Linked DNA regions of Homo sapiens: all the other regions are linked to region 1. Evidence: fine-mapped expression QTL. A gene starts in region 1. Each other region holds a variant in brackets. All regions are shown on one strand. Distances are from middle to middle.

Evidence for each region.
Region 2: its variant is fine-mapped to the expression of MCUB in whole blood (INTERVAL, PIP above 0.99).
Region 3: its variant is fine-mapped to the expression of MCUB in whole blood (INTERVAL, PIP above 0.99).

What each region holds. Positions count from the first base shown.
Region 1 is chr4:109,552,456-109,563,502 of GRCh38, reverse strand. MCUB (mitochondrial calcium uniporter dominant negative subunit beta) reads right to left here and starts at 3,257. Exons shown (of 8, transcript NM_017918.5): 1 at 3,067-3,257. The coding sequence starts at 3,165. It also overlaps the pseudogene SETP20 and the pseudogene CDC42P4. RefSeq lists an enhancer at 2,371-2,570 and a silencer at 2,991-3,310.
Region 2 is chr4:109,655,200-109,663,199 of GRCh38, reverse strand. It overlaps MCUB (mitochondrial calcium uniporter dominant negative subunit beta), which reads right to left. Exons shown (of 8, transcript NM_017918.5): 2 at 4,114-4,189; 3 at 2,835-3,005. Among named protein-coding and RNA genes, the nearest start is that of CASP6, 44 kb to the left of the region's middle. The variant C/GC (reference allele first, on the strand shown) is at 3,920.
Region 3 is chr4:109,675,077-109,683,076 of GRCh38, reverse strand. MCUB (mitochondrial calcium uniporter dominant negative subunit beta) reads right to left here. Exons shown (of 8, transcript NM_017918.5): 5 at 335-495. It also overlaps a transcript of CASP6 not described here. Among named protein-coding and RNA genes, the nearest start is that of CASP6, 24 kb to the left of the region's middle. The variant T/C (reference allele first, on the strand shown) is at 3,893.

The DNA.
Region 1 (11,047 bases):
AGTTAGTTTTATAGAATAGAATACAATGTACCAACTGCAAATACAAGAGATAGAATAGTAGGAACATGTCAAACAAGAACGATATGTTCATTAAATTAAAAAGATGAAAACAATTTCTAAGTTGACATCTTGTGGTGGAATTTAAACATCCATATGCTTTGTTTCTAGAAGTTAAAAAAAGCATACTCGATACTTAAGCTGCTCTGCAGAGTGCTTGATGTAAAAATTTTTTAAACATAGCTTATGTATGGACTCAAATGCTGTACTGGGGACATGAAATCGTATCAGGGAGTTTCTCAGTCTAAGTAGCACAAAATCCAAATTAAGAAAGGCACATTTAGGCAAGGGCTTTCTGTTCAGATGTAACTCACCAAGCACCACAATTACTCAAAGCTGAGTCTTTGTGCACAGAAACATCAGCAGGAGCCATGGATTGCCCTGACAACCACTCAGCTAGAGTGCTGACAAGCAGAGATGCTGCCACCAGAGCGTGATTATGGCCACCAGGCCATGCCTTGCCCAAAGATGAATACAATATGCTCTTGCTCTACTACGCTTCAGACTAAATGTGTTCTTTAAAAAACAATTCTGTATATCCATGTCAACAAACTGTTTTTTTTTCCCCTCACCCAGAAAACACTAGCAGACAATTGCTCACATACAATATGAAGTATGAGAATTGTGTATTTTTCAAAGTTATTAAATGCTCCTATAAGGCACACTCATAGAAGTGTGAAAGACTTCAGAAAGACCAATTATAGTTGGGAACGCTTATTTGAAATACTGCTTACGACAAGTCCTTGCAAGCTAAGATTTTATGAGCTGTCAGGTCACAAACTACTTGTTTTTCTAGCTGCTTCATAGGCTCTAGGGGTCTGAATGTTTCTGGGAAAAAAAATAAATAGAAATAATACTTGCCTTTACCCACAGGATATTTCATAACAAGTGGGAAAGCCACAAAAGAGTGATATCTTAGAATGAAAAATGTCCCGATAGCCAGGTAATTTGATTAGCAGAAAATGGTTTAGTAGTCCTAGCTAAAACTCCTCAAGAGCCAGAATATTTTTATCGGTTTACTCATGGTAAAATGTAAAAGCTGTATATAAAGAACAGCATTTCCACTTCTCAAGTTCTGAAAATTGTCTTTATAGCTGGACAGTTGGCTTAAAACAAAAATTTGCAAATTAGAAACATTCAAACATAACGCTTCTTACGATGATTCCTAACTACTGTTTCCCTGTTATTAGGCCTAATAAGCCCGATGGTACCATTTTCTTTTAAAAGGGTATCCACATTCCTGCTGAGGTATGCAATGGCACCACCCTAGACAGCATCAGATGGGAAATATGGAGAAAAGGATTTGCAGGTGATAATTTGAGAAAGGGCAGCCAGTCCCGGGATCCACAAAAATGCTACTCAACGTGTTAAATGGACTTAATAGAAAACACTTGGGGCTGGTCGCGGTGGCTCACCCCTGTAATCCCAGCACTTTGCGGGGCTGAGACGGGCGGATCACAACGTCAGGAGTTCGAGACCAGCCAGTCTGGCCAACATGGTGAAACCCCGTCTCTACTAAAAATACAAAAATTAGCCGGGTGCGGTGGCGCGCGCCGGTCATCCTATTTTCTGGGGAGGCTGAGGTAGGAGAATCGCTTGAACCCAGGAGGCGGAAGTTGCAGTGAGCCGAGATCGCACAACTGCACTCCAGCCTGGGTAACAGAGCAAGACTCCGTCTCCAAAAACAACAACAAAAAACAATAATCTGTGTTTAAAATGGCATGTGAAAGGGGTTCCTCGTATTGGGTTGTTTTAATGTTTGGTATCTCTTTGACTACACAATGCAACACTTACAGTAAAAGTACAACCTTTAAAAGTATAAAAAGCCCATCTCCCCAATGACTTTATAAGTCTACCATTTTACATTTTAAGGAGTTTGCCCCTGTTCTTACATTTAGTAACAACATGGCCTTCCTCATTCTCTTTCAAACATTCCTGGAATTGATTTTCTGAATGCACTTAATCCTTTGGTCACAAGCTCAATGAAAAGGAAAAAAAAATGCACTTAAATATTCCCTGCATCAATTGAAACTGAAGCCCTCAGACAGCTGGAGGAAAAGGGGGGGAAGGAAAAAAAAGAACAAAATAAACAGGAAGTGAAAGTGACAAGAGAATCACACTGCTTACTTTTTGGCTTTTAAGCCTTTAACAATCTGAAAGTAATCTTAACAGTGTGGGGGAGGAACAAACGAAAACTCAGAAACAGCTCCCTCCCCAACCACACACACCCTGAAGGCTTTGGCTGTCTTTCCTCATCTGGGTCAGAGTTTGCACTCCCGGGCTCCTGTCAGGCTCCATCGCAATCCTCCTTAAACTCAGCGCTTTCCCCTTCTTCTAGTCTTTTTTGGTGCACATCCACTCTCTACTCCTCCAAGCCACGGTTCTCCACAGACCACAATACAACGGTGTCAGGCCAACTGTTACTCACCAGCACACTCATGATTCACCCGTCTCTCGGGTGTCTGAACAAAACGCGAGTTTTTCTTCCTTCTGGGAAAGGGAGGTGCTCGCAGATTTCAGGATGGAAATTTCACTCTCCTGCGACCGTCCACACCCGGGACGGTCACTGCCCCGTTCATCGTTTCCGGGCTCCTTAGGGGCTCGGGCACTGATCACCAAGAGGGAACCGGCCCCGCGGCGCAGCGGCTTTGGAAACTTGCTCCTGACCGAGAGCTGCAGCCCAGAAACTGCCTCCCAGGTTATTCTGCTGCTCCCAGGCCGAAGTCTGGTGGTCCCCGCACCCTATCTCGGCCCGGGTGAGGCACCCCCAGCCGCAGCGCTCTGGCTTCACCTTCCCCGGGCCCGGAGTCTTGACCTCAGCCCAGGCCTCCGTGACCCACGTCGGCCGCCCGGCCACCACCTGTCGGGACCGCCCGGCGCGCGGAGCCCGGCAGCCAGCAAAACGCAGTTGACTGCTCGGCCGCTCGGCTTTTGCTCCCGCCAAAGTTGTCCAACGCAAACTTTGCACCAGCCTACCCCGAACCCCCACAGCCCGGCACCCGCTCTTACCTGGGGCGGAGGCGGCAGCGGCCACGGGCGCGCTGGGCGCCAGGTGCCAGGGGTCGGCAGCAGCCGCGTGCGCCACGGCCAGAGGCCCCTCTGGAGCATCCTCCCGCCCCAGGCGCGCGGCTCCCGCAGGCGTCAGCGGCGCATCCTCCCTCAGCCGGGCTCCTCGTCAGCGCCTGGTGGCTCCGAGCTGTGGGCGCTCCCGCCCCGCCTGCTCGCTCAGCGCGCCGCGGCTCCAGCTTGGGCGGGCTCACGGGAGGGTGTGTCCCTGTTTCCACTTGTCGGCTCTCTACGCATCCGGGCGCAGGGCTGTTTTCTTTCCTCCGACCAAAAAAAAAAAAAAAAAAGAGAGCGAGAGAGCGGGAGCCCGAGAGCGGGAGCCCGAGGTCGAGGGCCCCCTCCTTCTCCAGCAGAAGACCCTCTGGAATGAACAGCAGCAGGCGACGCACACCTTGCGAGCTCTAGATTTCAAAACTCGCTGTTAATTCCCGGTGCTGCGTGCTCTGAGCGCCGTCTTCGCCATCCAACCCAGACGGGGATGAGACGAAAACAGCGTCCGGCATCTGGAGGGGGCAGGGCCGCTCAGGAAGTTTGTTTTCCCCACCGAGCTTGGAGAAGACGGATTGAAGCGGGTCGGCCGAGGCCTCTCCCACCTCCACAACCTCCAAGGCCTCTGCCCCGGGCTGCGGTGCCGGGCCCCTGCTCGCTGGCGAGTGCGGTGTGAGGCGGGCAGCCCGGGCCTACCCCTGCGGAGGTTTGTAGTTCACGGTATAGGGGCCCAAACCCGAGTTTTTTGGGAAAGTATCTCCCACAGAATTGGCTTCTCTTTTGAAGCACGTTTTTAATTGAAGAAGCTTCGGAACCGGTATTGAGTTCTTCTAACTACTGGGAAATCGGATGCTTTGTTTTGAGACTACTTATTTTTGAAAGCAAACCAAAGGCATTAAAGAGCAACCTAAACCAATTACAGTAGGGTTGTTAGATAAAATATAGGATGCCCAGTTAAACTTGAATTTTAGATACAAATAGTGAAGTATGTCCCAAATATTGCATGGGTCACATTTATTATTTTAAAAATGAAATATCTGGGATATACTAAATTATTTGGTGTTTATCTGAATTCAAATTTAACTGGGCACTCCGCATTTTTATCTCCTGAATCTGCAAGAGGGTTCAGTTAATGAATCAAAATTGGCAAACCTGCAATAAGTGGCAAATCACTCCTGGCGGTAATCTCCTTTCCTTATTGAAAAGGGAAAGAATCACAAGTTTCTACTATAGTAAAAACTTTATCACTATTAAAGGCTGATTCACCTGTGTTAACTAGCATGTCTTTCAAAATACAGTTGCCCCAGATGGAGAGTGACACATGAAACTTTAAGTTCATATGGGAAGGTAAATTACCTTACCTGAATCTTTTCCTCCTATTAGCTAGTGCTCCAAGTGAAAGAAGCGTGTATTTTTGTTTTTTTGTTGTGAAGGGTTCTTGTTTAATACAACTGAAAAGAATGCCTATACAAAGAATTGACATGAAAAAGCATTGATTCAACACTCATGAGCTAGGTTCTGAAAGGTGTAAAAAAATTACCTGAACATTTTTAGAAATTGGAAACTACAACTAAAACTGATAAAAATCCCTATTAACATTTGTGAAGAATCTTGATAATGTGTCCTGAATTGGTGGGTTCTTGGTCTCACTGACTTCAAGAATGAAGCCGCGGACCCTGGTGGTGAGTGTTACAGTTCTTAAAGGTAGCGTGTCCGGAGTTTGTTCTTTCTGATGTTCGGACATGTTTGGAGTTTCTTCCTCCTGGTGGGTTCAGTGGTTTCGCTGGCTTCAGGAGTGAAGCTGCAGACCTTGGCAGTGAGTGTTACAGCTCTTAAGGTGGCGCGTCCGGAGTTGTTCATTCCTCCCAGTGGGTTCGGGTCTCACTGGCCTCAGAAATGAAGCTGCAAACCTTCACGGTGAGTGTTACAGATCATAAAGGCAGTGCAGACCCAAAGAGTGAGCAGCAGCAAGATTTATTGCAAACAACAAAAGAACAAAGCTTCTAGAGCGTGGCACGGGACCCAGACAGGTTGCCACTGCTGGCTCTGGCAGCCTGCTTTTATTCCCCCATCTGGCCCCACCCACATCCTGCTGATTGGTCCATTTTACAGAGCGCTGATTGGTCCGTTTTGACAGGGTGCTGATTGATGTGTCTACAATCCCTGAGCTAGATACAGAGTGCTGATTGGTGTATTTACAATCCTTTAACTGGATATAAAGGTTCCCCAAGTCCCCACTAGATTAGCTAGACACGGAGCACTGATTGGTGCATTTACAAACCTTGAGCTAGACACAGGGTGCTGATTGGTGTGTTTACAATCCTTTAGCTAGACATAAAGGTTCTCCAAGTCCCCAGGAGATTAGCTAGATACAGAGTGCTGATTGGTGCATCCACGAACCCTGAGCTAGACACAGAGCACTGATTGGTGCATTTACAAACCTTTAGCTAGACAGAGTGCTGATTGGTGCATTTACAATCCTCTAACTAGACATAAAAGTTCTCCAAGTCCCCACCCCTCTCAGGAGCCCAGTTGGCTTCCCCTAGTGGATGCCATGCCAGGGTTGCGGGCTGAGCTGCTTGCCAGTCCTGCGCTCGTGCCTCGTGCCTGCACTCAGCAGCCCTTGGGCAGTCAATGGGACTGGACGCCGCTGAGGCAGGGGCGGTGCCCCTCAGGGAGGCTAGGGCCTAGCAGAAGCCCACCGCGGGGGGACTTGCACATGGCGGGCTGCAGATCCGAGCCCTGCCCCATGGGGAGGTGGCTGAGGCCTGGTGAGAATTTGAGCGTGGCGCGGGCCGGCTGGCAGTGCTGGGGGACCTGACGCCCCCCTCTGCAGCTGCTGGCCCAGGTGCTAAGCCCTTCACTGCCCGGGCCGGGGGTGCCGGCCGCCCTCCGAGTGCGGGGCCACGGAGCCCACGCCCACCCGGAACTCGCGCTGTCCCGCAAGGCCACATGCAGCCCCGGTTCCCACCCGCGTCTCTCCCTCAACCTCCCTGCAAGCAGAGGGAGCTGGTACCAGCTTCCGCAAGCCTGGAGAGGGGCTCCCACAGTGCAGCAGCGGGCTGAAGGGCTCCTCAAGCATGGCCAGAGCGGACTCTGAGGCCAAGGAGGCGCTGAGAGCCAGCGAGGGCCGCCAGCACATTGTCACCTTTCAATAAGATTCTTTACACAATTTTTATTAAACCAGAGAGCCAGCCAGGCGTGGTGGCTCATGCCTGTAATCCCAGCACTTTGGGAGGCCAAGACGGGCGGATCACAAGATCAGGAGTTCAAGACCAGCCTGGCCAACATTGGTGAAACCCTGTCTCTACTAAGAATACAAAAATTAGCCGGGCGTGGTGGAACGTGCCTGTAGTCCTGGCTACTCGGGAGGCTAAGGGAGGAGAATTGCTTGACCCCGGGGAGGCAGAGGTTGCAGTGAGCCGAGGTTGTGCCACTACACTCCAGCCTGGGCGACAGAGCAAGACTCCATCTCAAAAAAAAAAACAAACCAGAGAGCCTCATTTGGGGGCTCTTGGGTTCCTCGTCTGCTACACAGAAGTGAGGAGATTCCCCTGACTGATCTCATGTTGTTAAGTGTTCTATCCATCCCCACCACACCCCAACTTCTTCATGAAGCAGGTCTCCATCCTTATAACTTGAGAGGCTGTGAATCATTCCATAGATGTCGGTCTTCTGCTACCGCTCTTCACATTGCCTCTACATACCAGGTCTTCAGCTGCATTCTAGAAACATCATATACTATTGATTGCAAATCTATAATAATATAAGACAATGACTGACAGGGAAAAAAGTTTTTTTAAGTTACAAACTCAATCCACTTGTTGCATTTCAAAGGTGCAATACTTTTCTTTATTCATCAGTTAAAGAAGTTAGAAATTAACTTCCCCAAAAATCAGCAACCGGCAAACAAATTTCCTTGAAAGTCACAGTCACATATTTAGTGCATCCCAGAAAAGAACAGGGGCAAGAGAATTTTCACCCACTTTCATGAGTTTCATCAAATACTGAGCCTACTCAAGGGTGGAGAGAAAAGGTAACTTTCAAAAAGAGGTATGTTATTAAATAAGGCATTTACTATATTCTTTCCTAAAAGCACCCCAGATAGGGAACATGTTTTTTAAACTAGATTTAGGAAGTCGAATATGGAGTCAATCCGTCCTTCTCCTCTTAAGGACTGACCACTGGTTAATGAATTAAAAAAGAGAAAAGAAAAGAAAAGAAAAAAGACTAAAAAACAAACCCTACAAACACTCCTCCTCCAAAAAAGAAAAAAATAAAACCCCACTAAGATGTCCCAGATTACCCTCCAGAATGGACCCAGGGAGCAGCTTCAACAATTCCAATTAGTCTGTTACACAGTCATCACAAGCATGCCTTGCTTTTAAGTAAAAACAAAATTGTTTTTTGAAACAAAAACCAAAAATGAGTACTGATCACTTTTCTAACAATACACAATTACTCAGAATTAACTAGTATTGGGAGGGAGAAGTGGGCCATACCTCTAATCCCTGTCTCACATGGATGCATGTGGGTTGGTGCAGGGTATTTGTCATTATTGCATAAATGAATTTTAATTTTTAATCTTTTGTTTGATTTAAACATTGCTTTTAGTATGATGCCTACACCAGCTGTGCAGAAAGGGCTCTGGAGAGATGTTCATAGCAGCATAGGCTTCCAGCTCTTCTTCAGTTCTGGAGGCTCCAGGACAGCCAATATTGCTTTGTCAAATCCATTCTTTAGATCTTGCTGTGTGGGTACAGGACCGTCCATATACTTGACAGCCTTCAGGTTGTGGGCCGGCTTTTCAGCAGTCTCTGGAGTGATAGGCTTCTATTTGTTCTTGGTAATTTTCTCAATAATAGACCCTCTGAGATCAATTTGGGTTGTGACAAGCAAGAAAGGAGCCTTTGGACAGTGGTGAGTTATCTCAGGCCCTCACTTTTCTTTCATACTTTAAAATGAACATGGAGAGACCACTGAGAAACAGACTAGAAATATATCTGTGTAGATAACTCAGGAGTTATAGTCTGTCATAATCTTCTTGCCCTGCAGAATTAAAAGTCTAAGAGTATATGGCTCTGCACCAGTCCTAACTGTGAGTGCATAGTTGTCAAAAACAGTCTGTATCTATTAGGATGGAAATTTGTTGTGTAGGATATCAGGAGACATGTTTTACCAACAACTGCATTGACCACAACAATGCAACTAATTGTCTGCATTGCTGAAATAGTTTTGTATCCACTTTAAATATTTGAAATCTGATGTTGACCTCAGTTCTCCAGAAAAGAGTCTTATTAGGAAGGAGGGGAATGGAGAAGAGGGGGAGGAGATGTCCGTTTTGCAGCACAGAATCTGGCCACAAAGGTGGGATTAGCAAACTCCTGTGGGAGAAGCTCCGGACACTGCAGACAGAGCGGGTTTACCGGGGAGGCACTGTCCACAAAGTCGCTCGGCACACATAGATGTTTCGGGTGCACAACAAACTTTCCCACAGTATATAGGACTCTTGATGAGACAAAACGATTACTCAATGTGAGCTAGTTCATAAGTATTACTTATATGTCACAGCCTTTTCACATTCGAATCTCTGATCTCGCTTTTCAAAAAAAAAAAAACTTTGTAAACAGCTCTATTAAGGTATGATCTACATATCGTAACTTTCATTTATTAAAAGTTATTTTTGGCAAATTTACAGAGTTGTGCAACAGTCACCACAATCAATTAGAACATTTCCATCACTCTAGAAAGATTCCTCAGGCTCATTTGCCTCACTCTCCATTCTTACCTCCAGCCCCAGGCAACTACTAATCTACTTTCTGTCTCTCTAGGAAGCAAAGAGCAAGCTGAGCTGGAGATACATTTACTTTGGGTTTAGTGGGATATTTTTGTGTGGTTCATGGTCATTTCTATGTATTGTTAAGATATTGCTAGCCATGCCCACGTAGGAATGGCTTCCAGGAATACTCCTGTTATCCATTGGGCCTCCCACTTTGATAGAATTTTAATGGTAAATAGAGAAGGATATTCCTTTCCCTATTCTGTCTCCAGGTCCTGGACCTCCATTGCTAATAGAGTATTAAAGAACTCTGTACCCAAATGAGAGTACACATTATTTCAAACACATATGGATGATTCACAATGTAATGCCCACATGGTGGGCCTCAAAGGGAATCTCAAAAATGACCTTAAACTTGCTAACATATAAGCTATGTTCATGAAATTAAATATAAGAAATTGGAGTTTTCTGCCTGAGCAAGGAGACTGGTGGTCTGGTTCTTGGGCTTCCCTAGCAGCCTGGCCCCCAAATGCCAGTCTTCCCTCCTGTCTCGAAAGAAGACACCAAGACCACCTCCTGTTCTGAGACCAGAGGAGACTTCGGCCTCTGTAGGCTTGCCAAAGAAGGGCGAAAAAGAACAGCAAGAAGCAATTGAACACATTGATGAAATACAAAATGAAATAGACAGACTTAATGAACAAGACAATGAGGAGATTTTGAAAGTAGAACAGAAATATAACAAACTCCGCCAACCATTTTTTCAGAAGAGGTCAGAATTGATCTCTAAAATCCTAAATTTGGGGGTAACAACATTTGGCAATCATTTACAAGTGTCTGCACTGCTTGGGAAGGAAAACGAAGAGACATTGCATTATTTGACCAGAGTTGAAGTGACAGAATTTGAAGATATTAAATCAGGTTACAGAGTAGATTTTTATTTTGATGAAAATCCTTACTTTGAAAATAAAGTTCTCTCCAAAGAATTTCATCTGAATGAGAGTGGTAATCCATCTTCAAAATCCACTGAAATCAAATGGAAATCTGGAAAGGATGTGACGAAACGTTTAAGTCAAATGCAGAATAAAGCCAGCAGGAAGAGGCAGCATGAGGCACCAGAGAGCTTCTTGACCTGGTTTACTGACCATTCTGATGCAGGGGCCGATGACTTAGGAGAGGACATCAAAGATGATATTTGGCCAAACCCATTACAGTACTACTTGGTTCCCCATATGGATGATGAAGAAGGAGAAGATGATAATGAGGAGGAGGAGGAAGGATTAGAAGACACTGATGAAGAAGGGGATGAAGATGAAGGTGAAGAAGATGATGATGAAGGGGAGGAAGGAGAGAAGGATGAAAGAGATGACTAATAGAATACTGATGGATTCCAACCTTCCCCTTTTTAAATTTTCTCCAGTCCCTGGGAGCAAGTTGTAGTCTGTTTTATTTTGTTTTGTTTTTGCCTCCTGTGCTCAGTCGCCCTATTCTTGAGGTCTCTTTTCTCTACACTTAATTGGGGGAAATATCTTGAGCAGACTACATTGAGAAAAGAGTCTCTACCCCTTTCTGTTCGAAATTCATTTTTATCCCTTCCTGTCTGAATAAAAACTGTATGGAATCAACACCACCAAGTTCTGTGGGAAAAAAGAAAAACCTGCTCCCTTCGCTCTGCTGGAAGCTGGAGGGTGCTAGGCTCCTGCGTAGCAGTGCATAGAATTCTAGCTTCTTGCCTCCTTTCTCTGTATATTGGGCTCAGAAAGTACACTGTGTGTCTATGTGAATATGGACAGTTAGCACTGACCAACATGTATCTATTTTCTCTTGTTTAAAAAAAAGAAAAAAAAAACTTTTAAAAATGGGGTTGGCTGGGTGCAGTGGCTCACACCTGTAATCCCAGCACTTTGGGAGGCCGACGCGGGTGAATCACCTGAGGTCAGGAGTTCGAGACCACCCTGGCCAACATGGTGAAACCCCGTCTCTACTAAAAAAATACAAAAATTAGTTGGGCGTGGTGGCAGTCACCTGTGATCCCAGGTACTCGGGAGACTGAGGCAGGAGAATCGCTTGAACCCAGCAGGCGGAGGTTGCAGTGAGCTGAGATGCGGTTGGTTGCATTAACTTCTACTTCCTGCCAGTTAGCCCTTACTCTGCTTTTTT
Region 2 (8,000 bases), 100 kb before region 1:
TGGATGTGTATTTTCAAATCCCGGCCTGACATTCATTTGGTTACATTCAACCCGAGCTATTTTAGCTATATTAATATGTGTGATGACAGGACTAACACTAGTAACATCCCGAAGAAACTGGCTGCTGCCTCTTGTCTGCCTCCCTATAGTTCTTTTGTTCTGGAAGACTGCAAATCAAGTCTGCACCTGTGTCTGTTCCTAGAATTTGGCTGTTTGGGTTGCTGTTCATCAGTTGCAGTGAGATCATTTTCCAAAAAATTGCCAAATAATTCAACCCACACAATGGGCAAAACTGTGACAAGCTTAGAACACTCTTTTCAAGCCCAAATTAAATGCAGGCAAATTCCACCCACAGAGTCTTTTAAAAAGAAGAAAAAAAAAATCAGCAACACACCAATCGCTTTATCTTTCCAAGTGTCATTTAAAAATTTACATGTAAATGACTTCAAACCAGCTCCTTAAAATCTTACTAAAAAAGACATACACTGAATATGATTTCTCAGTTGAAATACTATATTATCCTTTATACAAAGGTATGAATAGCAAAAGACTGACGTGAAACATTTTTAAGCACTAGTGATACAGTGTTAAATTTTTCATGTATTCTTGGGTATCAATTTAAACCCCCGATAGGGTGTTTGCACTCAGTCCAAAGAGTCCCTTTTCTCTAAGACTTCTATTCTCTTTCTTTGTGCTTTCTGTTTCAAAGCTACTAACTTTATTTTTAGAAATAAGCAGGATAAACATCTATCATTTTAACCTCTCTTATTTCATTCACTTCAATACTAATTGAGTACACACCACCAGGCAAGTGCTGCTCAGTGCAGGCCCTTCTGACTTCCAGGTTTGGGTCTGCCTGCCCCTAGAAGCTTAGAAAGAGGGCCCTGCCCCTGTGGAAAACGCCCATGGACATTCCAGTGTTCCTGTGCCTGGGGGAAATGTCTGTCTAGTTCAAGGATGAAATATTAGGAAGCCCATTGTGCCATAGGGCTAAAACCTTATTCTCTGATCCAGGTTTTAGCAGGAAGAAACGTCCCTTCCAGCTAAATCTATAGTCCTAACAACAACCTACAATAAGCCTTTCCTGATCTGCCCTTCCCCACCTCTCAGAACTCCTCCTTTCTCCCAGCTCCCTCCTTTGCGGTCACTGTGTAGTAGGCTCCCACCTCAATGCAGTCTCACTCTATCACTCAGGCTGGAGTGCAGTGGTGCCATCTCGGACCACAGCAACCTCCGCCTCCCATGTTCAAGCGATTCTCCTGCTTCAGCCTCCTGAGTAGCTGGGATTACAGGTATGCAACACTACACCTGGCTAATTTTTGTATTATTAGTAGAGAAGGGGTTTTGCTATGTTGGCCAGGCTGGTTTCAAACCCCTGACCTCAGGTGATCCACCCACCTCGGCCTCCCAAAGTGCTGGGATTACAGGTGTGAGCCACCGCATGCGGCCCAGAGCTCTCTTCCCTCTACGTGACTCCCTCCCTCATTTCCCCCAGGTCTTTGTGCAAATGTAATCTTATCAAGCCCACCCCTGCCCACACACATCTTCCACACTCTGCTTTATTTTTCTTCGTAACACTTATTATTTAACATAATACATAATTTATCTTGTTTTTTTCTCCTCCTAAATATAAGCTCCATAAGGGCAGGAGTTTTTATCCCTTTTGTTCTCTGCACTACCTCTAGCGTATAGAACAGTGCCTGACATACATTAGGTGCTCAATAAATATTTGTTGAATGAATCAATTAATCTCCATTTTCCAACTTCTCTATCTTTTAATTAATTTGGAACTTGGATAGGGAAAAAGTCTGTTTATTTCCCTTTCAAAACTGCAACAGTAATCATGAACCTAAATAACTTTATTCTAAGTATTTAATATCATAATGAAATAATGCAAATTTATTAATTTATCTATATTTGCAGCTGCTATGTAGTGGGATAGGGTAAATAATTCTTTATTCTATTTAGAAGCAGTTGGTCTAAGACCATTTCAGACTATGAGAACATGAAAGCTGTATTCTAAATTTTAAATGTCTAAGTGATGACATACTTCTGGTTTTTTAAAAAATGTATATTCTTCCTAAGAACTAATTCTGCCAAAAAACATACTAGACTGTAATTGCTTTATAACAGTGGTGAACAAATTTTTTGTGTACTTTAATTATTCACTGGCTTATTTTAATAATTAAAACTGCATTTTGTTTTCTAATTATTCAAATTTTGCTGAGAATTGCACGCTAATGCCTGTGCCACTAAGATTTTCTCATGAAAAACCTTTAAGGCTAAGTTTATAAAATAAGTAACTGAAATTTACATTAAATTTATTCCATTAATTTTTCATTCAATGAAGTTAAATTTTTTTTTTTTTTAATTTTCTTTTCTTGGGATGGAGTTTCACTCCTGTTGCCCAGACTGGAGTGCAATGGCGTGATCTCGGCTCACTGCAACCTCTGCCTCCTGGGTTCAAGCAATTCTCCTGCCTCAGCCTCCCAAGTAGCTGGGATTACAGGTATGTACCACCACGGGTGGCTAATTTTGTGTTTTTAGTAGAGACGGGGTTTCTCCATGTTGGTCGGGCTGGTCTCGAACTCCTGACCTCAGGTGATCCGCCTGACTCGGCCTCCCAAAAGTGCTGGGATTACAGGTGTGAGCCACCACGCCAGGCCAAAACAGTTTTTAAAATAGTGTTGATGCATAAAAATGAAAGAATAAAGACCAACCATTTATTATCTAATGAATTAAACAATGTACTTCTAGAAAAGTAAAGAACCAAACAAAAGTTCAGGAGAGACAGAAACCCTGGGACAAAGTTGTAAAATTATATACATATATACCTGCTGTGAAGATGGCTGCAGTTTTGATACCCTTATCTTCATTTTGTAGGTCCTGAAGGAATGAACCAACTGTTGACAACATTGGTTTGACTACGAATTGACAACGTTCTTTTCTAGATGGCAAGGTAAGTGTTACCAAGGGAAGGCCATGTCTATAAATAACTGTTATTTCTGTTAAGGAAAAAAAGAAAAAAAAATGAGTAAATTTTACTTTAAAAAAAACCATAAATACAAGAATTCTAGAAGGAATGCTCAAACATGAAATTCACAAACCTCTGAAGTCTTATAAAAATTTGTATTGCTCCAATAATGCCTTCATTATACTACAGTTTACATATTCCCTACCATTCTATAACATTTTAGTGTAGCACATACCACACTTTATTATCTGCTTAAAGTCTTCCCAGGTGGCCGGCATGGTGGCTCATGCCTGTAATCCCAGCACTTTGGGAGGCTCAGATTGGTGGACTGCCTGAGCGCAGAAGTTTGAGAGCTCTCTGGGCAACATGGCGAAACCCCATCTCTACAAAATATACGAAAATTAAGTCTGGCATGGTGGTGTGCGCCTGTAGTTGCAGCTACTTAAGAGGCTGAGCTGGGACGATGGCTTCAGCCTGGGAAGCAGAAGTTGCAGTGAGCCGAGATCGTGCCACTGCACTCCAGCCTGAGTGACACAGCTAGACCCTGATTAAATGAAAAAGAAAAAAAGTCTTCTCAGGTAAACACTTAAGTTCTAGTTTTCTTGAGGACAGAAACTATTTGTTTTTTTTTCTTTCTTTTTGAGACAGGGTCTCACTCTGTTGCCCAAACTGGAGTGGCACGATCATGGCTCACTGCAGCCTCTACCTCCTGGGCTCAAGCAATCTTCCCACCTCAATCTCTTGGGTAGCTGGGACTACAGGCATGTGCCATCACACCTGGCTAATTTTTGTATTTTTTGTAGAGATGGGGTTTTGCTTTGTTGGCCAGGTTGGTCCCAAACTCCTGAGCTGAAGTGATCCGCCTGCCGTGGCTTCCCAAAGTGCTGGGATTACAGGCCACCACACCCACCCGACTATTGCTTATCATCTCTGACTCCTCTGATT[C/GC]TGAGGTGGGAATTTGACAAAAGACAGCAGCTATATTATGGGAGCACAAAAAGGTGGAAGTGAACCCAATCAGGGTGGGGTGGGATGGGGATAGTGTAAGAAAAGTCTATTCTGCTCAAAACTCTCGCAGCTCTTTATTTGGAAGAAAGGGAAACAATTAACATATGAATCAAATAAATGGTAAGAAAGCTTACCATCAGGTGGCACCACGGTACTATAATGGTGTGACTGGTAGTATTTCACATTTCCACACAGCTTCACACGCAAAACCTACAAGAAGGAAAAATTAATTTGTTTTTTTAAAAAAAGAGTGGGAAAGATGAAATAAGTGTCTTTATTTTACCATAAGATTCTTTTTAATACTATATGAAAAGCATAATGAAAAACTCAACTTGTCATGCATCCCAGGGTGAGCCCTTGGCAAGCTCACTGAACCTTCCTGGCTATATGCTTGCCTGCTACTATGTATGCTGTAGCAGTAGCACACCAGGACGGGATCCCTAAATTGGGGTATGAGGCCCCCTGAAAATCCTAGAGTTCTGTGAGAATTTTTACTTTCAGTATTTCCTTTCAGGTAATAATCTAAAACAAATGGACATAAGTATATCTAGTCTAGAGACATGCTTCTCAATATGTGGTCCCCAGACCAGGAGCATCTTGGGGCTAATTAAAAATGCAGAATCGGGCCGGGCATGGTGGCTCACGCATGTAATTCCAGGACTTTGGGAGGCCAAGGTGGGCGAATCACCTGAGGTCAGGAGTTCGCGACCAGCCTGACCAACATGGAGAAACCCTGTCTCCACTAAAAATACAAAATTAGCCAGGTATGGTGGCACATGCCTGTAATCCCAGCTACTCGCGAGGCTGAGGCAGGAGAATCACTTGAACCCGGGAGGTGGAGTTTGCCGTGAGCCAAGATCCCATCATTGCACTCCAGCCTGGGTAACAAGAGCAAAACTCTGTCTTAAAAAAAAAAAAATGCAGAATCACAGATTCAGACCAGATGTACTGAATTCCAGTCTGCATTTTAACAAGATCCTCAGAAGATTCACATGCACATTAGAGTCTGAAAAACACTGCTCTAGATCTGTGCTGTCCGATATGGTAGACACTTGTTAAATGTGGTTATTTAAATTAGTTAAAATTATGTACGGGTGGGACACGATGGCTCACGCCTGTAATCCTAGCACTATGGGAGGCCGAAGCAGGAGGATTGCTTGAGCTCAGGAGTTCAAGGCCAGCCTGGCCGACACAGTGAGACCCTGTCTCCTATAAACAGCAACCACAAAAAAATTATGTACACAAACATTCAGAACCTCAGTCACCTTTGCCACATTTCAAGGGCTCAAAAGCTCCCTATGCCTAATGGCTATCTCACTGAAAAGCAAAAGCGCAGGAATAGCATATTTCTATCATCACAGAAAGTTCTATTGGACAGCAGTGCTGAGTCTACAACATCTGAATGGCCACCTCACCACGGAACATGTTTTGGGGGCTTGCATTGGTGTTTGTGTTTACACAATTGCACTGGTGCTTAATGAAGACCGAATAATATCATGGTGCACTGTGTGAACAAAGATATTGTGGGAGTAGAAAGAACAGGCATTGGGGAATTGGTTCACAGGCATTTGGAACTCAAAAGGACTTGTACCAGAGAAATTAGTACCAAAGTCACAACACGGTGGCTGTAACATACTGATCCAGATTTTTTAATGCATCACCTTACAGTAGTTTATTAACAATAAGTTTGCCAGTAATTGTGCAAAGAATAATTCTTTTATAAACTGCATTTTTAAATTTTTCAGGATTTGAGGGTACACTATTAAAATAATAAATCAGTGGTTAAAAGTGTGTTCGCTGTTTCAAAAAATAAAGATGACACTGACCCAAATGAAGGTCCATTATGTTCAAAATTAAAAGAACCTCATCAATAAGTAAAACAAAACATTCAAATACATATTTTAGTATTAAACACAACATAGGCAATAAATGTCAACACAACATCATCTTTTACATTAAGACTGTTCATTTGAGCTTTCTATTTTTTTTTTTTTTTTTTTTTGAGATGGAATATTGCTCTGTTGCCCAGGCTGGAGTGCAGTGATGCAGTTTCAACTCACTGCAACCTCCACCTCCTGGGTTCAAGTGATTCTCCTGCTTCAGCCTCCCAAGTAGCTGGGGTTATAGGCACCTGCCACCATGCCTGGCTAATTTTTTGTATTTTTAGTAGAGATGGGGTTTCACCAAGTTGGCCAGGCTGGTCTCAAACTCCTGAACTTGTGATCAGCCTGCCTCGGCCTCCCGAAGCGCTGGGATTACAGGCGTGACCCACCACACCCGGCCTGAGCATTATTTCTAAAAATGTAGCTCACTACTAAGATGAGAAGAAAAAGGCAGATGATGTCTTAAAATAGATGCAACTCTCAATAAATAAATATAGGTAGAAGTTCTCCAAGTGTGGATAATGGATATTACAATACCGTCTACTACTTTTAGCAAAACTACATAAAAATGAGACACATCAGAATTCTCTATCAAAATTCTTCTATAAAAATAATGAGACAGATAATTTTCTGTGCATAAAAGTCAAATACACGAAGGTAGGGAGTAGGCCAGGCGTGATGGCTCCTGCCTATAATCCCAGCACTTTGGGAGGCTGAGGCAGACGGATTGCTTGAGCCCAGAAGTTTGAGCCCAGGTAACATGGTGAAACCCTGTCTCTACAAAAATTACAGAAAAAGTCTGGCATGGTGGCACATGCCTGTAGTCCTGGCTACTTGGGAGGCTGAGGCAGGAGGATTGCTTGAGCCCAGGAGGAGGCGGCTGCAGTGAACCGAGATTGTAGCTACTGCACTTCAGCCTGGGCCACAGAGGGAAACCCTGTCTCCAAAAAAAAAAAAAAAAAAAAAAAAAAAAAAAAAAAAAAGTAGAGAGTAAAAGTTAGAGCCCCTCCCTTTACTTCTCTATAATCCTGGAAGTCTCCCCAGAGGTAACCACTGCCAGTGGTTTGGCATGTATCCTTCCAGATTTTTTTCTACACGTTACCTACCAAATTCTATGCTAGAGTCCGTATAATGCTAAAGACATATGAGTCAGGTTCCTAAATGCCATTGGTGATAATGCCTGTGAGAATCCAGGAATCCAGTTGGAGGCAATATAAAATGATTACAAAGTATCATTTAATATACTGATAAAGTTGCAGGTGTACTACTGAAGAAGTAACTGTAGCACCCACAAGATAGAGGCACCCACATGACAACCAGAAGATGCTGAAAGAAGGCAGAGTGGCCTGAGAAAAACAGCAGGGCTTTCTCAAGCTTTTGCTTGCCTAATAATCACCTGGAAGCCTTAAAAACACAGATTCCCAGACCCCATACACAGAGATTTTTAATCTAAAAGGTCAGTTTGTGAGGATTTGCATTTTTAATAAGCTCCAGAGGTAAACTGAAGTTTCAAGGGTGAGAACCACACTGTGAGAAGCTGGGCTTTAGCCAACCTCCCCACAACCCCCACCACCACACACACACACCCCCTGCTGCCCCAGGCTTCGTGGCAACATGCTAGATTTCTGCGTAGAATCATTCCGAATTCCAAATTTTAGTGCCTGGTCAAGCGTTACTGCCTTTAAATGGAATTTGCTATCAGGGCAAAAGATGATTTGGGCTTCTCTTTAACCATGAAGCATTTTTTGTTCCTGACCACAGAGCTCCTGAATCCCTTGGAATTTCACGAGCGATTGAAGTTTCTGTGGTTTTAACAAGGTAACTCTTGGTGGGATGCTAGATGGCTTCAGGATGGGGCTGGTTGCTAGAAAGATCAAACCTTGATTAAAAGCCTAGAATGTTCAGTCCCATCTTCCCAGCCTCCAGGAAGGGGACAGAGGCTGGAGACTGAGTTAATAAAATCCATTATGCCCACATGATGAAACCTCCATGAAAGTCCCTAAACAATGAGGTTCAGCGAATTTTCAGGTTGGTGAATGCAACCACGTGTTGGGAGGGTGACATAATCCAACTTCATGAGACAGAAGCTTCTGGGCTTGGGACCTCCCAACAGTGAAAACTATGTTCACACAAACTGT
Region 3 (8,000 bases), 120 kb before region 1:
CTAGTGCTGCCCTGCTCATATTATACTTATTTACAGAGACATTATGACTGATCTCTGGAGAGGAGGCATGGCATAGAGTTTAAGATGGCAGCTCTGAACACAGGCCACGTGAGCTCAAGTCCAGGCTCTACCATGTATTAGCGATACAGCTCTGTTGCTCAGTTTCCTCATCTGAAAAATGAGGAAGATAAAAGCACTGAACTTACAGGTTTTTTGTGAGGCGTAAAGGAGAAAATTAGCATATGGAAAGCATTCAGAAAAATGCTCACATGAGGAGCACTCAATAAACACTAGGTATTATTTTCAAATATACTCAACCGTGATGCTTCCTAACCTGTTCAAGGGGCTGCAGCTGTTCCTTCAGGTGGTCAATTTTCTCCAGTAAATGGTGCTCTCTCTTTTTCTGAGACTCTTCTAAATGCAAGATTGTAAATAGTCTGTGAACCAAAGATTTCATGTGTTCCATCTCAGCAGTGTGCTCATTACTTGGTTTTTCTGAGAAAAGACACAAGGGAAACAAGCCAGTCACCACATTGTTCCCGCAGGGTGTGTAAATCTTTCGGTCCCCAATTCTCTTTCCAAATATTATCTTAGGATCCACAGGGTAAGGAAGCTGGTGTACAAACATGTAAACAAAGGTGTAATATACATTTGAAAAGCAGTTCAAGTGTACTTTTCAACAAAGAGAGTCACAGTAAACAACAAAGTGTGGATCTGAAGAGCAGTTCATATACAAGGTAAAAAAAAAAAAAGTCACCAAAAAAATGACTTTGGCATAAGGATTATTTTCAGCTGAAGGCAATTGAGCATAAGCAGCTACAAGAAAGGCTCTCTGGCCTCTCCCTTTTTGCCCAAAAGCAGGACACAAATTTTACAAAGACCTCGTGAGAGACAGAACTAGCTGGATTTCCTAGGCCAACTAAGAATCCCTAAGCCTAGCTGGGAAGGTGACCGCATCCACCTTTAAACACGGGGCTTGCAACTTGGCTCACACCCAACCAGAGAACTCACTAAAATGCTAATTAGGCAAAAACAGGAGGTAAAGAAATAGCCGATCATCTATTGCCTGAGAGCACAGCGGGAAGGACAAGGATCGGGATATAAAACCAGGCATTCGAGCCAGCAATGGCAACCCCCTTTGGGTCCCCTCCCTTCGTATGGGAGCTCTGTTTTCACTCTATTTCACACTATTAAATCTTGAAACTGCACTCTTCTGGTTCGTGTTTGTTACTGCTCGAGCTGAGCTTTCGCTCACTGTCCACCACTGCTGTTTTGCCGCCGTAGCAGACTCGCTGCTGACTTACATTCTTCCGGATCCAGCAGGGTGTCCACTGTGCTCCTGATCCAGCGAGGCACCCCTTTGCCGCTCCAGATCGGGCTAAAGGCTTGCCATTTGTTCCTGCACGGCTAAGTGCCTGGGTTTGTCCTAATTGAGCTGAACACTAGTCACTGGGTTCCATGGTTGTCTTCCGTGACCCACGACTTCTAATAGAGCTGTAACACTGCATGGCCCAAGATTCCGTTCCTTAGAATCCGTGAGGCCAAGAACCCCAGGTCAGAGAACACGAGGCTTGCCATCATCTTGGAAGTGGCCCACGACCATCTTGGGAGTTCTGGGAGCAAGGACCCCCGGTAACACTCTCTACCAGAAAGAACAAAGGTAGATCGCCAGAGACAACTTTAGACCCTTTTCAGCTTGGAGACTGCACCAGAGGAATCTACAGACAAACTTTAGTAGCTTTTGACTACCTTTAACCAACTTATTTGCTTTTCCACAATTTGCTGACCCCAGAGACTCAAGGACCTTTTCCTTTGACTTGTCACAACTCTAAAAATGTATTATTCTTTGTAGAAGATGCTCTATCAGCTGAGGTTCAGAGCCACCTCTTTGAGAATTACTCATTCCTTGGATACCTCCCATGTGTCTATGGAATATACACATTAATAAACTACTGTTTGTTTTCTTCTTAGTAATCTCTCTTATCACAGGGGTCCATCCCAGCTAAGAACTAAGAGTAAAGGGAAAATTATTTTTCAACTCTTACAGGAGTTACGGTTTCAGAGTTTTTAATATAAAGTTCTCTTGATTATAGACTTCCCTCATCCCACCTCCTCCATGGGTTTATAAGTCCATATAAAATTAGGCTCTGCTATGAGAAGTCCCTCAGATTGATACCCTTCTGAGAGCTGTAATTGTTCATTATCACTGTTAAGAGAACCTGAGGGAGGACAAGGTGAGAGGAAGGGAAGATGGACCTTCCCACCAGGCAGCAGCAAACAACTGCAGACAAGAGAGACATATGTCTAGAGTTGGTATCAGCCCAGTAAGTTTTCCAGTTTGTGTCAGTAGTCCTGAAGTTATTTTTCTTCCATCACTACCCAATTCAAGACTGCTGTGGTCTTTACCCCCTTCCATAGTCTAGGCTATAGCTGCCACAGAGGGGTGAAAGCTAGGTGTTCTCTTTTAGGCTTTGAGATCTGTAGAAGAGTCAGAGTCCTTTTGTTAATGAAAAATGTATTGGTACATAAAACATATACATACAGAGAAAAGGCATAGATGGAAGATAGGCAAAGCTAGGCACTAAAACAGCAAGGGTAAATTTTATTAATAACTATTGCAATAGGGTCCAGCGTGAACTGAACTCAACTTCAATTTGTGCAGAGATGACTGTTTTAAAGAAAGAATGACAGAATGGGCAGGGTGAACAGCAGGGGCTTGAACAGAGTCAGGGAAATGAAAATTTACAAAAAGTGGATAGTTGGTTAATGTTACTGGGCCATCTGGGTTTGTTAACTGGTACCTATCCAGAAGAGAAATAAACTTCTCATACCTTATGACAGGATGCAAGTCAGAGCCAGGCACCCACGGGTTGGGAGTAAGAGCCAGAGTTATGTCCTTGAACGTTAACATTTCAAAGAGAGACTCCCAAGTCCTTGAGAAGACAGGTCTGGGTGATAAAAAATTTATACCCTCAGGCCAGGTGAGGTGGTTCACGCCTGTAATACCAGCACTTTGGGAGGCCAAGGTGGGTGGATCACCTGGGTTCAGGAGTTTGAGATCAGCCTGGCCAACAGGGTGAAACCCCGTCTCTACTAAAAATACAAAAATCAGCTGGGCATGGTGGTACACACCTGTAGTCCCAGCTACTCAGGAGGCTGAGGCAGGAGAATTGCTTGAACCCAGAAGGCAGAGGTTGCAGTGAGCCGAGATTGCACCACTGCACTCCAGCCTGGGTGACACAGAGAGACTCTGTCTCAAAAACAACAACAACAACAACAACAACAACAAAATTATACCTCAAAGCGGGAGAGAAAGTTCATAATTGCAAGCTTTCTAAAGTAACTGCTTGTCTGAGTCCACTAGTCCACTTTCTGCTTCTATAACACGATACCACAGACCCCATAATTTACAAAGAACAAAAATTTGTTTCCCCCTCTCCCACTCCCTCTCTACGGTCTCCCAGTCTCCCTCTCTTGCCGAGGCTGGACTGTACTGCCATGATCTCGGCTCGCTGCAACCTCCCTGCCTCGGCCTGCTGAGTGCCTGGGATTCCAGGCACGTGCTGCCACTCCTGACTGGTTTTTGTATTTTTGGTGGAGACGGGGTTTCGCCGTGTTGACCGGGCTGGTCTCCAGCTCCTGGCCTCAGGTGATCTGCCCGCCTCGGCCTCCCGAGGTGCTGGGATTGCAGACGGAGTCTCGCTCACTCAGTGCTCAATGTTGCCCAGGCTGGAGTGCAGTGGCGTGATCTCGGCTCACTACAACCTCCACCTCCCAGCCGCCTGCCTTGGCCTCCCAAAGTGCTAAGATTACAGCCTCTGCCTGGCCGCCACCCCGTCTAGGAAGTAAGGAGTGTCTCTGCCGGGCCACCCATCGTCTGGGATGTGAGGAG[T/C]GCCTCTGCCCAGCTGCCCCGTCTGGGAAGTGAGGAGCACCTCTGCCCGGCCATCCCGTCTGGGAGGAAGTGAGGAGTGCCTCTGCCCGGCTGCCCCTAATGGGAAGTGAGGAGCGCCTCTGCCTGGCTGCCCCATCTGGGAAGAGAGGAGCGCCTCTGCCCAGCTGCCACCCCATCTAGGAAGTGAGGACTGTCTCTGCCTGGCTGCCCCGAATGGGAAGTGAGGAGCGCCTCTGCCCGGCCACCCTGTCTGGGATGTGAGGAGCGCCTCTGCCCGGCCGCCACCCCGTCTGGGAAGTGGGGAGTGTCTCTGCCCGGCCGCCCCATCTGGGAGGAAGTGAGAGCGCCTCTGCCCAGCTGCCCCGTCTGGGAATTGAGGAGCGCCTCTGCCCGGCCACCCATCGTCTGGGAAGTGAGGAGCACCTCTGCCCGGCCGCCCCGTCTGGGATGTGGGGAGCGCCTCTGCTTGGCCACCACCCCGTCTGGGAAGTGGGGAGTGCCTCTGCCTGGCCGCCCCATCTGAGAGGTGAGGAGCGCCTCTGCCCGGCCGCCACCCCGTCTGGGAGGTGAGGAGTGCCTCTGCCTGGCCGCCACCCTGTCTGGGAGGTGAGGAGCTCCTCTGCCCGGCCGCCCCGTCTGGGATGTGAGGAGCGCCTCTGCCCGGCCACCGCCCCATCTGGGAAATGGGGAGCGCCTCTGCCCGGCCGCCCCGTCTGGGAGGTGAGGAGCGTCTCTGCCCGCCCGCCCATCATCTGGGAAGTGAGGAGCGCCTCTGCCTGGCCGCCCCGTGTGGGAAGTGAGGAGCGCCTCTGCCCGGCCGCCCCACCTGGGAGGTGTACCCAACAGCTCCGAAGAGACAGCGACCATCGAGAACAGGCCATGATGATGATGGCGGTTTTGTCGAATAGAAAAGGGGGAAATGTGGGGAAAAGAAAGAGAGATCAGATTGTTACTGTGTCTGTGCAGAAAGAAGTAGACATAGGAGACTCCATTTTGTTCTGTACTAAGAAAAATTCTTCTGCCTTGGGATGCTGTTAATCTATAACCTTACCCCCAACCCCGTGCTCTCTGAAACATGTGCTGTGTCAACTCAGGGTTAAATGGATTAAGGGCGGTGCAAGATGTGCTTTGTTAAACAGATGCCTGAAGGCAGCATACTCGTTAAGAGTCATCACCACTCCCTAATCTCAAGTACCCAGGGACACAAACACTGCAGAAGGCCGCAGGGACCTCTGCCTAGGAAAACCAGAGACCTTTGTTCACGTGTTTATCTGCTGACCTTCTCTCCACTATTATCCTATGACCCTGCCACATCCCCCTCTCCGAGAAACACCCAAGAATGATCAATAAAAACTAAAAAAAAAAAAAAAAAAAAAAAAAAATTTGTTTCCTTATAAGGAACAGAAATTTGTTAGTGGAGGCTGGGAAATCCAAGATCAATGCACCAGCATCTGACAAGGGCCTTCTTGCTGCATCATAATGTAGCAGAAAGCATTACGTGGGTGAGAGAGAGCAAGCAGGGGCTGAACTTGTCCTTTATTAAGGAACCCACTGCCAAGATAACACACTCCCATGATAACGACATTAATCCACTCACGTTGGTCCTCATGACCTAAACACCTCTAAAATGTCCCACTTCCCAACAGCTTTGCATTAGGGATCAAGTTTCTAACACATGAATTTTGAGGGACACATTCAAACCATAGCATTCTGCCCCGGCCCCTCAAATTCATGTCCTTTTCCCACACAAAATACATTCACTCCATCCCAAGAGCCCCAAGCATCTACTCAAAAGTCCAATTCCAAAGTCTCATCTAAATCAGATATGGGCAAGAATCTAGGCATGATTCATCCTGAAGCAAATTATCCTCCAGCTGTGAGTCTGAAATCAAACTCACAGCTGGAGTTTGTACTTCCAAAATACAATGGCTGGATAGGTATGGGATAGATATTTCCACTGCAAAAGGGAGAAATAGGAAAAAAGAGGTAACTGGTCCCACGTAAGTCCAAAACCCAACAGGGTAGTAAACAACATTAAATCTTAAAACTTCAGAACAATCTTTGAATTCATATGCCACCTTGTGGATACACTAAGGCAGGGGTTAGGTCCTCAAAATCTTGGGCAGTCCTGCCCCCATGGCTTTGCTGGGCTCAGCCCAGGCAGTAGCTCTTATGGGTTGAGGTTTCATGCCTGCAGCTCTCCCAGGATGCTGCTGCACACTGGTAGCTCTAAAGTTCTGGATTCTCAAGGGGCAGCTGTGAATTTTCCAAATATTTTACATTCTGCCTCATTTTTAATTGTGAATTCTGTCTTTAAATCTATTCTCCTCTCATTTTACTGTATGCAGTTAAAGAAACCATGCAGATTCTTCAATATTTTGCTTAGAATTTTCTTCTGCCAGGTAAATTAGTTTGTCACTCTTAAATTCTGCCTTCCATAAAGTCCTTGGATATGAAAACAATTCTTTGTAACTGCCCAGTCTTGTGCTATTCTGCTATTGCAGCAGAAAACAGATTAAGACAGAAAATTGGTACTAGGAGCAGAGTTACTGCTATAACAAATACCTGAAAAGGTAGAAGTGGCTTTGGAATTTGGTAATGGGCAAAGGCTGGAAGAGTTTGGAAGAGCAGACTAGAAAAAGCCTGTATTGTCATGAACAGAGTATTAAGGGCAATTCTGGTGAGGGCTCAGAAGTTCTTTGCAAGTCCATAACAATAATGGTGTTTATTCCAGCTTCCAGTAAGATATTCCTCATTTCAAAGAGCTTATCAGATTGGCCTTTACCATATACATATTTTTGGATTTTTAGTAGAGACAAGGTTTCACTATGTTGGCCACACTGGTCTCAAACTCCTGACCTCAAGTGATCCACCCGCCTCAGCCTCCTAAAGTGCCGGGATTATAGGTGCGAGTCACCACACCCAGCCTACCATCGATATTTCTACAAACATTCTGATCATGACCACTTAAGTAAATCTCTAAAAACTTTTAGACTTCCTACAGCTATTCTCTTCCGAGCCCTGACCAGAATTGTCCTTAACACTCTGTTCATGGCAATATAGGCTTTTTCTAGTCTGCTCTTCCAAACTCTTCCAGCCTTTGCCCATTACCAAATTCCAAAGCCACTTCCACCTTTTCAGATGTTTCTTATAGCCCCACTTCTGGTACCAATTTTCTGTCTTAATCTGTTTTCTGCTGCAATAGCAGAATATCACAGACTGGGCAACTTAGGAAGAACAACATTTTATTTCCTCACAGTTCTGGAGTCTGGGAAGTCCAAGACCAAGGTGTTGGCATATTTGGTGAGACCCTTCTTGCTGCATCATCCCATGGCAAAAGGGAGGCAGAGAGAAAGCAAGTGTTTATGCACAACAGCACAAGAAGGGGCCAAACTCATCCTTTTATAAGGAACCTACTGCCAAGATAACCTCTCCAGTGAAAATGGCATTCATCTATTCATTAGGGCAGTGCCCCCATGAGCCAAACACCTCCCAATACGCCTCACATCCCAACACCACAACACTGGGGATCAAGTTTCCAACACATCAACTTTGGGAAACATACTCAAAGTACAGCACTGCTCTAAAGATGAGGTTGTATGGCTTATTGACCTATCACCAGGTTTTGGCTGGAATAAACAGTAAATTTTCCAGAGGGTACTGAGCTTTCTCAGACAGACATTCTAAAAGAACCAGAGTTGTCATCCAAATGATGTGGCCTTGAGCTATGAGAAACTATGCAAATGTTGGTTCAACTCTCTTAGTGTGTGTGGTGTGAGGGGGGCAGTGTTGACAAAATCTGTGCTGAGAGTTTACAGTTTTTATAGGCCATGGTTAACGCCTAGTTGAGAAGAGGGTTCCGAGGAACCTGACTGAAGTTTAGTCAAGGTGAGAGTCTTTGTCAAGTGGCACGAAATGTTTATCTGAGTTCAACAATGAATGCCCTTGGCTCTGCTCTTTCAGAAGCATGGGCACCACAGAATTCATGTTACACCACCAACCTAAACTGACTCATAACATTTGTCTGTGGCATTTCCTAATAAAGGCCAAAAATGAGAGAGAATTATTCTTTTCCTTTTCTTTTTTTTCTTTTTGACATGGGTCACTT